Regions from separate parts of the Homo sapiens genome. Here all the other regions are linked to region 1. The links come from fine-mapping of genetic effects on gene expression. A gene starts in region 1. Each other region holds a variant in brackets. All regions are shown on one strand. Distances are from middle to middle.

Region 1 (2,763 bases):
TCCCGGATTCCAGTGACTCTCCTGCCTCAGCCTCCCAAGTAGCTGGGACTACAGGCGTGCGCCACCAGGCCCAGCTAATTTTTGTATTTTTTAGTAGAAACTGGGTTTCACCGTGTTGGCCAGTATGGTCTCCAACTCCTGACCTCAAGTGATTCTCCTGCATCAGCCTCCCAGAATGCTGGTATTACAGGCGTTAAGTCACTGCGCCTGGCCCATACTGTTTACATTATCTTATCTGTTTTAGGTTTACATGTTATTTTTAATGTTCCTGTACATTTAAAAAATTGAAACCAAGAATCTTGACTGGCTCTGAAACTTAATTGGGAAAAATGTAAAGCACTTTAGTGGAATTTTTCCCATGATCTGTAGAATAGTTTTTAAACAGATGGTTCATATGGACAAAGCAATGAAAATGCAGAAATTAAAAGCAGATCCTTAAGAACAATATCCGAGTTCTCAGAAATCCTATAGATGATGTCAGGACGAGATGTAAAGCAGTCGTTTCTTTTGCTGTCAAGGTTTTAAGAGAACAGAAATTTATTAGGTGAACCTCCACCGGAGGAAGGATAAAGCCTGTGGGTAGGAGTTAACTATTTATTTCAAACTCCAGTCCACTTCAACAATTTGAAAATTTTCCCGCTCCTAGGACAATTCCATCCAGGTGCCAATAGGAGATACTACTATTGTGATGCAAATAGGTATTCTACTAGAAGTAGGAGCACGTAAGCAGAGTGAGGATGACTTGAAAAATCGTCCCACCTTCCCAGCTATGGAGTGGGGGCAGGGGGAAGAAACACCTCCAGGCTGGATCATTGAAGCTGAGGGGTGGGAGAGCGACGGGACAATTTTTCAACGTGGAATTCAAATGCATTCGGTGGGGAAGTGTGAAGTAAAATCTAAACGAACGCTAGACAGTAGTATCTTCCATCTACGCTTCAAAATACTCAGACTTTAGGGAAACTTAACGTTGGTTTTTCTCCCAGAGAATTGTAGGGAGTGGGTGGAGGGGACACTGTTAGGGGAGGTATATTGGGAGTCAGATCCTTTTGTGGAGCGAGGGACCCCGAAGTGTCACCAAGGGCTAGCCGAAACCAGGGGCCCAAGAGGGGACAGGGCTAACACCCCAGCCAAGGCCGGAGCGCAAGCGCGGGGCTGCAGCGCGGGGAGCCCTGGAGCCCAGTGCGGGCGGACGGGTGGGGCAGGAGGGCAAAGGGGCGAAGGGGCGGGGTGGCGCTGGGTGGGAGCGCGGCGGCGGGGAGGAGGGTCTGGGAGCCCGGGTGCGATTTGCAAGCGCTCTGAGCCTGCGTCCGCCGAGGGGGAGGGTTTCCCCAGCCCGGCCGGAGTTGCGGCTGTGCGCTGCTTCTGGCTCACAACGCCGACGACTGTCAAGAGAGTTGGGGAGTGGAACTGCCGGAAGTGTCTGCGCGCCGTGAGAGAAACTTTCCTGCTCCGGCCGCGGCCCGGAGCCTCGCCGCCCCCGCGTTCCGAACGACGATGCGTCCAGATGACAACAACCTGAGGGGACTCGCGCCTCGGCCCGCCGCCCGCGCCTGCGCTCGCCTAGCCTCGGGGGAGGAAGACTGAGCCCGGCGCAGGCGGCGCGGCGCTCGGGGCCCGTTTCCTCCGCGCAATCAGTCCCCTCGCGTCCCGGCGCCTTCCCCGCGATCGCGCGACCCCAGCGCCCGCCGCGGCCGCCGGCTGCCCCCGCCCTGACCTCCGGCCCGGACGTGTCCGCGGCCGCCGCTGGCAGCGCCTGTGCCATGGGGCTGCCCACTCTGGAGTTCAGCGATTCCTACTTGGACAGCCCAGATTTCAGGGAGCGCTTGCAGTGTCACGAGATTGAGCTGGAGCGAACCAACAAGTTCATCAAGGAGCTCATTAAGGACGGCTCTCTGCTCATTGGGGCGTTGAGGAGTAAGTAGGGCTGGCGGGGGAGTGGACACCCGCATCTGGAGAGTCCCCGCGGGGTGCGGGTCCGAAGGGTGGGTTGGAGGAGTCGGAGCTTCTTTTGTTTGAATGGATTTGGGGACAAAAGCTGAAGAGCTCCCCTGCTGGTGGCCAACAAAGTTTGTTCTTGAGGTGTTCTTTACTTACTCACATGTCTACAGGGATGGGGAAAGTTCTCTACAGGGCACTGGAATATATCCTGAGGAAAGTCGTTCAAAGTCATCTCGTTGTGTAATGCTCCTAGGAAGATGTTGGGGACTTTAATTTTTTTTTTTTAATTTATTGTGTCTATTAATAGTTTGAACTAAAAAAGCCCTTAAGGGGGGAATCAAGAGTTTGTCTTAAAGATAAAATTAGGCTAGTTTAGTGATATTGAAAGAAAATTATTAATGTCTCTCATACGTCAGTGGCTCTTCATTGGACACAGTCATTGAGTTGGCTTTTTAAAAAGCATACATTTGCAGTTTTGCCATTTTGTAAGATAATGGAAGACAGCAAGGCACCAGTGCATTTTAACTCTGCAAGTTTTCTGTGCGTCTTAGTTTTGGTTTGCATTGTGTGGGTGTTGGGTGTGTCATTGGGATGAAAGTTAAGGGGTTAAAGGCCAATCAGAACTTTTGATGATCTGTAGAATATAAAGACTGTTATAGTCTATAATATAGGGCTTCTTCCACCTCCTTTCCCATACACCTCTTGATCAAATTTTCCTTCCTCCTTTTATCCTCTGGATCTTAGCTTTCAATTCCTAAGACCTAAGAGTATCTGAAACTGAAGAGTTTCTCTTACAGAGAATTGAGCACAATTACATGATATGGC
Region 2 (2,763 bases), 52 kb after region 1:
GGAGAAATTGGATGCTGATATTTCAGAGCTGCAGTCTGTTTGGAACCTCACAGTACCGCAGTCTAACAAAGAAGTGCCAGCTTTGTTTTAGATTTAAAAGAGTATCATCTAAAGGATCTGACATTACAGACAAAAGAGAGGTAACTCACTAATTCCATCAGATGTATATTTTTTCTCATTTTGCAATTCCATCAAAGCAGTATTGCTCTTGGCCATTTACCTGTTTTTGAATAATGAGAGGTATCATGATTTTCATCAGTGAGGGTAATATATGTAAAACTTGCAAACAATTTATTCCTCTAAATAAAGTAAAAAACTATGTTGCTAGAGAAGTACTATTGCTGCTGACTACTAAAGGTAGTTAAGAAGTCAAAGTGTTTTATTATAATACAAATAAAGTGAACATGTAGAAATCTGTTTATTATTACGTTTCAAGTTTGAATATTTTGTTTTCTTTTTAAGAAGAAGCAGGGCAAAACAAACTGTGCCCGTTGCATTCCTTGCCAAGGTCAATGCTCCATATTTTGTCTGACTGTTTAATTTAATAGCATTCAAGCACAGAAGCAATCAGGAGGCCACTCCTATTGGTAAATCCATGCTTATAAAGAAAGCATGTATTTCAGAACTTAGGAAAAAAGCTGTTTGTTAAGCCCAGACCTAGTTTGAGATCTTTTTGAAAAGTGCTTATAATTTTCCAGAATTCTAGGATTAACTCAAGGAAATGCACAACAGAAATATGTAGATTTGACAGTGGCTTTTTTCTTCTGTTCAAGTTATCTTAGAGTCTTTTTTTTTGTTTTTGTTTTTGTTTTAAATGAAGCAGTTTTGAGATTCATTAACTGGTTATCTTTTGTCTGAGTTTTACCAAAGTGATCAAAAAATAAGGAACTATTGACTTTTGGTAATTAAAATACTCTTGGATTTTTTTTTTTTAGTTAAAGTTCAGGACCATTCACTTGGTTCTTAAACAATCTTGTTTTAACCTGAAGAACTCTTGATTTGAAACTTTGAAATCCTGAGAAACATTTTTTCTATGACTCTCAAAAATAACTTCAGATTGCAATTTGTTCTAAAGAGGATAAAGTAGATATACCATGCTTGTTTTCTTTTCCTTAATTGAGTTTCATTTATGTGATTAACTTAGATAAAAATACTCTAATTTGATTTACTGAAGCAGTCAGGATGAAATATTTTGCATAGTGAAGTGTGCTAAATCTTTAAAACTATTTCTAGAGTTTTTAAAGAAAGAATTTTAAAATGTAATGTACGAAGGTATAATTCTGTGTATCTATACTTTGTTTCTCCCTCCCCTCTGCATCTAATAAGCCCCTCTTTTCTTGTTCCTTTTGTAAACATGAGTTGCTTATGGCTTGTGTACTGAAAATGCTGCCAGGAAGTAGGGTGAGCATAACTTCTTTTCCCATGACCCTCAGTCTAATGTTGTTCCAAGGGTTCC[T/C]TACTTAGAAATGCCTTGATAACCGCATTCATTCCTGACATACCCCACCCCCAACACACACAACTGCTGAGTGCCATCTGACCCACAGTCCAGCTGCAGCTTTTAAAAATACTAGTGGCAAAGGCTTTTACCTAGAACGGTGACTATCTGTGAAAAAATTTTGTGTGTGATTTGTTTTTTGCGTGTTGAAATATTATTTTTTAAAGAAAGTTACTTGGTGTCAGCCTGCAAGTTAAAGGGTTATTAGTACAATTTTTTTTTTTTTTTTTAATTTTCAACTCACTAAAGCTTGCCTGTGTATGTTCATCCTTTTTGTATGATTTCTGGAAGTTTTCCTGTTGACAGTGAAGTCTAAAATGCTAAGACCTTTAGATTCTCTTGTTTCATGACTTTTATTATGAACATAAAACTTTTAAAAAAGACCTGGTCATGCTATGGCCTCTCCCTTCTCCCAAATTTTATATGATACCCTCAGTTTTTTTTCCTTTGGTGCACAAGGGAAGAAAAACGTATTTGCTGAGTAAACACTTGGGCACTGAATTTATTTCTCCCATCTTCTAAAAACTGTGAAGTGAGCACTAGCGTTCTTTTATATGTAGAAAATTGAGAGTGCAAAACAGGTTAACTAATTTGCTCCAGGAACAAAAGCTAGTCAGTCATGGAACTAAGATTTGAACCTGTCTGTCTGATACTAAAGTGCTATTCTTTGCCATTTGAAGGCAGTATCATTCATGCCATGAACATTAGCCAGAAGCTTTATGGTATAGGGGGAGGAGAATGGAATGTGTAGAGGAAAAGTTCTTGGAAAGCAGAGTTTGATGTAGAATGGTTCCTGAAAGTGAAGGGGATGGTGCCAGCAGTTGCAAGATAAAGCGATGGGGTAGGTACATTGCTCCTGGCAGCTGCTCCTTCTGCCTCTCCTGTTGTTGAGTGTCAGATTTTGCTGCTCCAGGGAAGATTCAACCACTGTTAAAGTTTGGCACAGGGTTGATGAAGCTTTGGAACGTTACTTACTGGATTATTTAAAAAAAATATGTCTATCAAGAGAAGAATAAAGAGGGTATCTGTGGTTATACTTTAATTAGTTATTCCTGGAGAGGGGACATGTGGCCTTATTCTAGTCCCATGGGCTTGAGGGGGAAAGCAGACAGATTTATTTGACTGACTGTAAGGCTCCTTTGCAGATTACATAAAGAGAGAAAATAAGAAATTTTATTTATTTATTTCTTTTTTTGAGATGAAATCTCACGCTGTCTCCAAGGCTGGAGTGCAGTGGCAAGATCTCAGCTCACTTCAGCCTCCATCTC
Region 3 (2,763 bases), 95 kb before region 1:
TGTCAGTGGGGTATTAAAGTCTCCCACCATTATTGCGTGAGGGTCTAAGTCTCTTTGAAGGTCTCTAAGAACTTGCTTTATGAATCTGGGTGTTCCTGTATTGGCTGCATATATATATTTATGATAGTTAGATCTTCTTGTTGAATTGAACGCTTTACCATTATACAATGCCCTTCTTTGTCTCTTTGGATCTTTGTTGGTCTAAAGTCTGTTTTGTCAAAAACTAGGATTGCAACCCCTGCTTTTTTTGTTTTCCATTTTCTTGGTACATTTTCCTCCATCCCTTGTCTTTGAGCCTGTGTGTCTTTGCATGTGACATACTGGCGCCTTAATCTTGCATTGTAAGCAATGAATTTCTGTTGTTTATAAATTGCCAAGTTCAAGGTATTTTTTATAGTAGCAAGAACATTCTAAGACAGAGGAACAAAAGAGTAACTTTGCAGCGGAGAAGGTTGGCAGATATCACCTTGCTCAAGTAATGAATGCTAACAGAAACAATAATAAAGCAAATCAAAATGATGTGCCATCTAATATGATGCAAAGATAAAATTCAACATCATTTCTGTGATGTTCCAATTTAGTCTAATCTTAACCTAATCATGACAAAATCTGACAAATCTAGAATAAGGAATATTCTACAAAAACAAGAGCCTGTCAAAAGTGTCGAGGTCATGGAAGTCAAGCAAAGATTACAGAGCTGTTCCAGATTGAAGGCGACTAAGGAAAGATGGTAACTAAATGCAATTCCTGATTCTGGGCTGGACTATTTCCTATAAATGACTTTTATTGGTAAAACTGGCAAAACTGGAATTGGGCCTGTGGATTAGATAGTGATCCAATTTAACTTTCTGATTCTCTGGATTGTGTCATACTGGAAAAGACTCTTGCTTTTTGGAAATACACAATAAAGTATTTGGAGGTGATGAGACATCCTGTCAGAAACTTAGTCCCACATGGCTCAAGAACTAAAAGTTCTTTATATTACTCTTGAAACACTTTATACATTAAGATTCTTTTAAAACATATGATTTCTTAGAGTGAACCTTTTCCACCCAGTCTTTTTGTCTGACTTCCAGCATGTCTGATTTCTTTAGTATCATGCTGACACAACATGTCAATTTTTTTGTATTCTTAGGCTGCAAGGAAACACCCTTATTTATCTATTCATTCATCTATTAAACAAACACTTATTGATCACTCATTAGGTCCTAAGTAACTTGCTGCATTAAGGATCTAACTGAAAAAAAAAAAATCCAGCACCTTCCTCCAAGGAGTTTCAGGCTAATAGGGAGACAGAAAAATGAGCAGGTAATAGACGATATGACAAGTGATTATCTGTAGGAATACCAGGTGGTATGGAAGAACAGAGGGGAGGCATCTTAGGATGTGTTCAGGAAAAATGAGACCTGAAGGGAAACTAGGAATTACCTAGGAGGAAAGTTCAGCAGGTGTGTTGCCAGCAGGCAGAGGAAAGAACATGCAGAAGGCAGC[C/T]GGAAATGAAAAACAGGGAACATGACCTGTTGTAGATACTGCAAGCAGCAGAGAATAACTGAAGCAGAGAGTGTGCAAAGGGAAGGGTCAAGAGATGAACATAGGAAGGAGGGAGCCTAGGGGATGACCGGCTGCCCATGCCTAAAACACCTTCAGCACCTGCTACACCTATGTCTTCCAGGTTATTACAACCAGCTCTGGTAATCTAGTCACAGGACTTGTTGCACCCACATCAATACTCACACGCCTTCCAAGAAAGTGGCTCTGAGGAGAGCACGGTTTAGCAACCCTAGAACTGTTGGATATTAACAAAGTGAAGCACGTCATTTGCAGCAGCTTCCCTGACAATGTTAGGTTTCTTAGCCAAGTTTTGACAAGTGTTTTTTGAAAAGAGTTATTGGCATACTTGCTTGCATATCATCTTTCTTCCCAGGATAGAAAGATATTTACAAATGATGTCTGGCAACATAGAATTGGATATTTTTTACTCTCCCTAAAATACTTGCTCTATTCTAAACAGCGCATCGCAGTGCACTTCTCCTTGGCAACCTTGTGGTTTCCCTGAATACACATCCAATTACCCAAGTGGTTGCTATTGCACTGTGGCCTGTTTTCACTTTGGGTGGCAGGCCCTCAGTTCCCTGCTGCCCACTCAACAAGACATTCACTAATTCCAGAACTCCTGGGCAAAGAATTCCTTCAAATTAACCATGAGCTTTATTTTTAGTGTAAAAGATGTTTGCTTGATAAAAAAAAATTGTTTCATGTAATTATAGTCATTAGAAATGGGAATGAGACAATACTTGGTGAACTGATCCCTCCATCTGGTTAGGGTAGGATTATTCCCTGTGACAGATTGGCCATGCTAAACTATACAAACTGAATGAAGTGAAACCCAGACCATCTGTGCATGGAGCCATTTCTAAGTGGTTAGTACTGCAGAGACCCCTGGATAAGCATTTGCATTGAGCAGTGTAGTAGCACCTGACATCCTCACGGTTCATTCATCCAGCAGCTTGTGGTCAGTTGCTTACTGGATCCAAGGCCAAAGTATAAACAGAATGTCTTGGGTTTCTCCCAGTACAGTTTAAAGCATGTCAATAGTTTGGTTTTGGCCTCTTCTCATTACTATTTAAGCTATATGACGCATATTTGTGTTTTTGTAAGTCTGCTACATTTTAAGTATAAAAGAAGATAAAGCAAATAATAATAATTGCTATTTTTTATTGAGAATTTATTACCTGCCAAGCTTTTTTCTAAATAATTCATATT

Alleles and levels. Alleles are on the strand shown, and positions count from the first base shown. SD is a standard deviation of normalised expression in the study named. Not every link is listed here.
For the expression in tibial artery of the gene that starts at base 1,370 in region 1, allele T in region 2 goes with a higher level than allele C (moderate effect, 0.70 SD a copy in GTEx).

What was found.
Region 2: its variant is fine-mapped to the expression of ARHGAP42 in tibial artery (GTEx, PIP above 0.99).
Region 3: its variant is fine-mapped to the expression of ARHGAP42 in whole blood (TOPMed, PIP 0.98).

What each region holds. Positions count from the first base shown.
Region 1 is chr11:100,685,919-100,688,681 of GRCh38, forward strand. ARHGAP42 (Rho GTPase activating protein 42) reads left to right here and starts at 1,370. Exons shown (of 24, transcript NM_152432.4): 1 at 1,370-1,914. The coding sequence starts at 1,761. ARHGAP42-AS1 (ARHGAP42 antisense RNA 1) reads right to left here and starts at 2,037. Exons shown (of 2, transcript NR_133571.1): 1 at 1,715-2,037. RefSeq lists silencers at 740-1,034, 1,085-1,274, 1,575-1,744 and enhancers at 971-1,681, 1,395-1,444, 1,765-2,134.
Region 2 is chr11:100,738,359-100,741,121 of GRCh38, forward strand. All of the region lies in intron 1 of ARHGAP42 (Rho GTPase activating protein 42), which reads left to right. Among named protein-coding and RNA genes, the nearest start is that of ARHGAP42-AS1, 52 kb to the left of the region's middle. The variant T/C (reference allele first, on the strand shown) is at 1,457.
Region 3 is chr11:100,591,047-100,593,809 of GRCh38, forward strand. No RefSeq gene overlaps it. Among named protein-coding and RNA genes, the nearest start is that of ARHGAP42, 95 kb to the right of the region's middle. The variant C/T (reference allele first, on the strand shown) is at 1,492.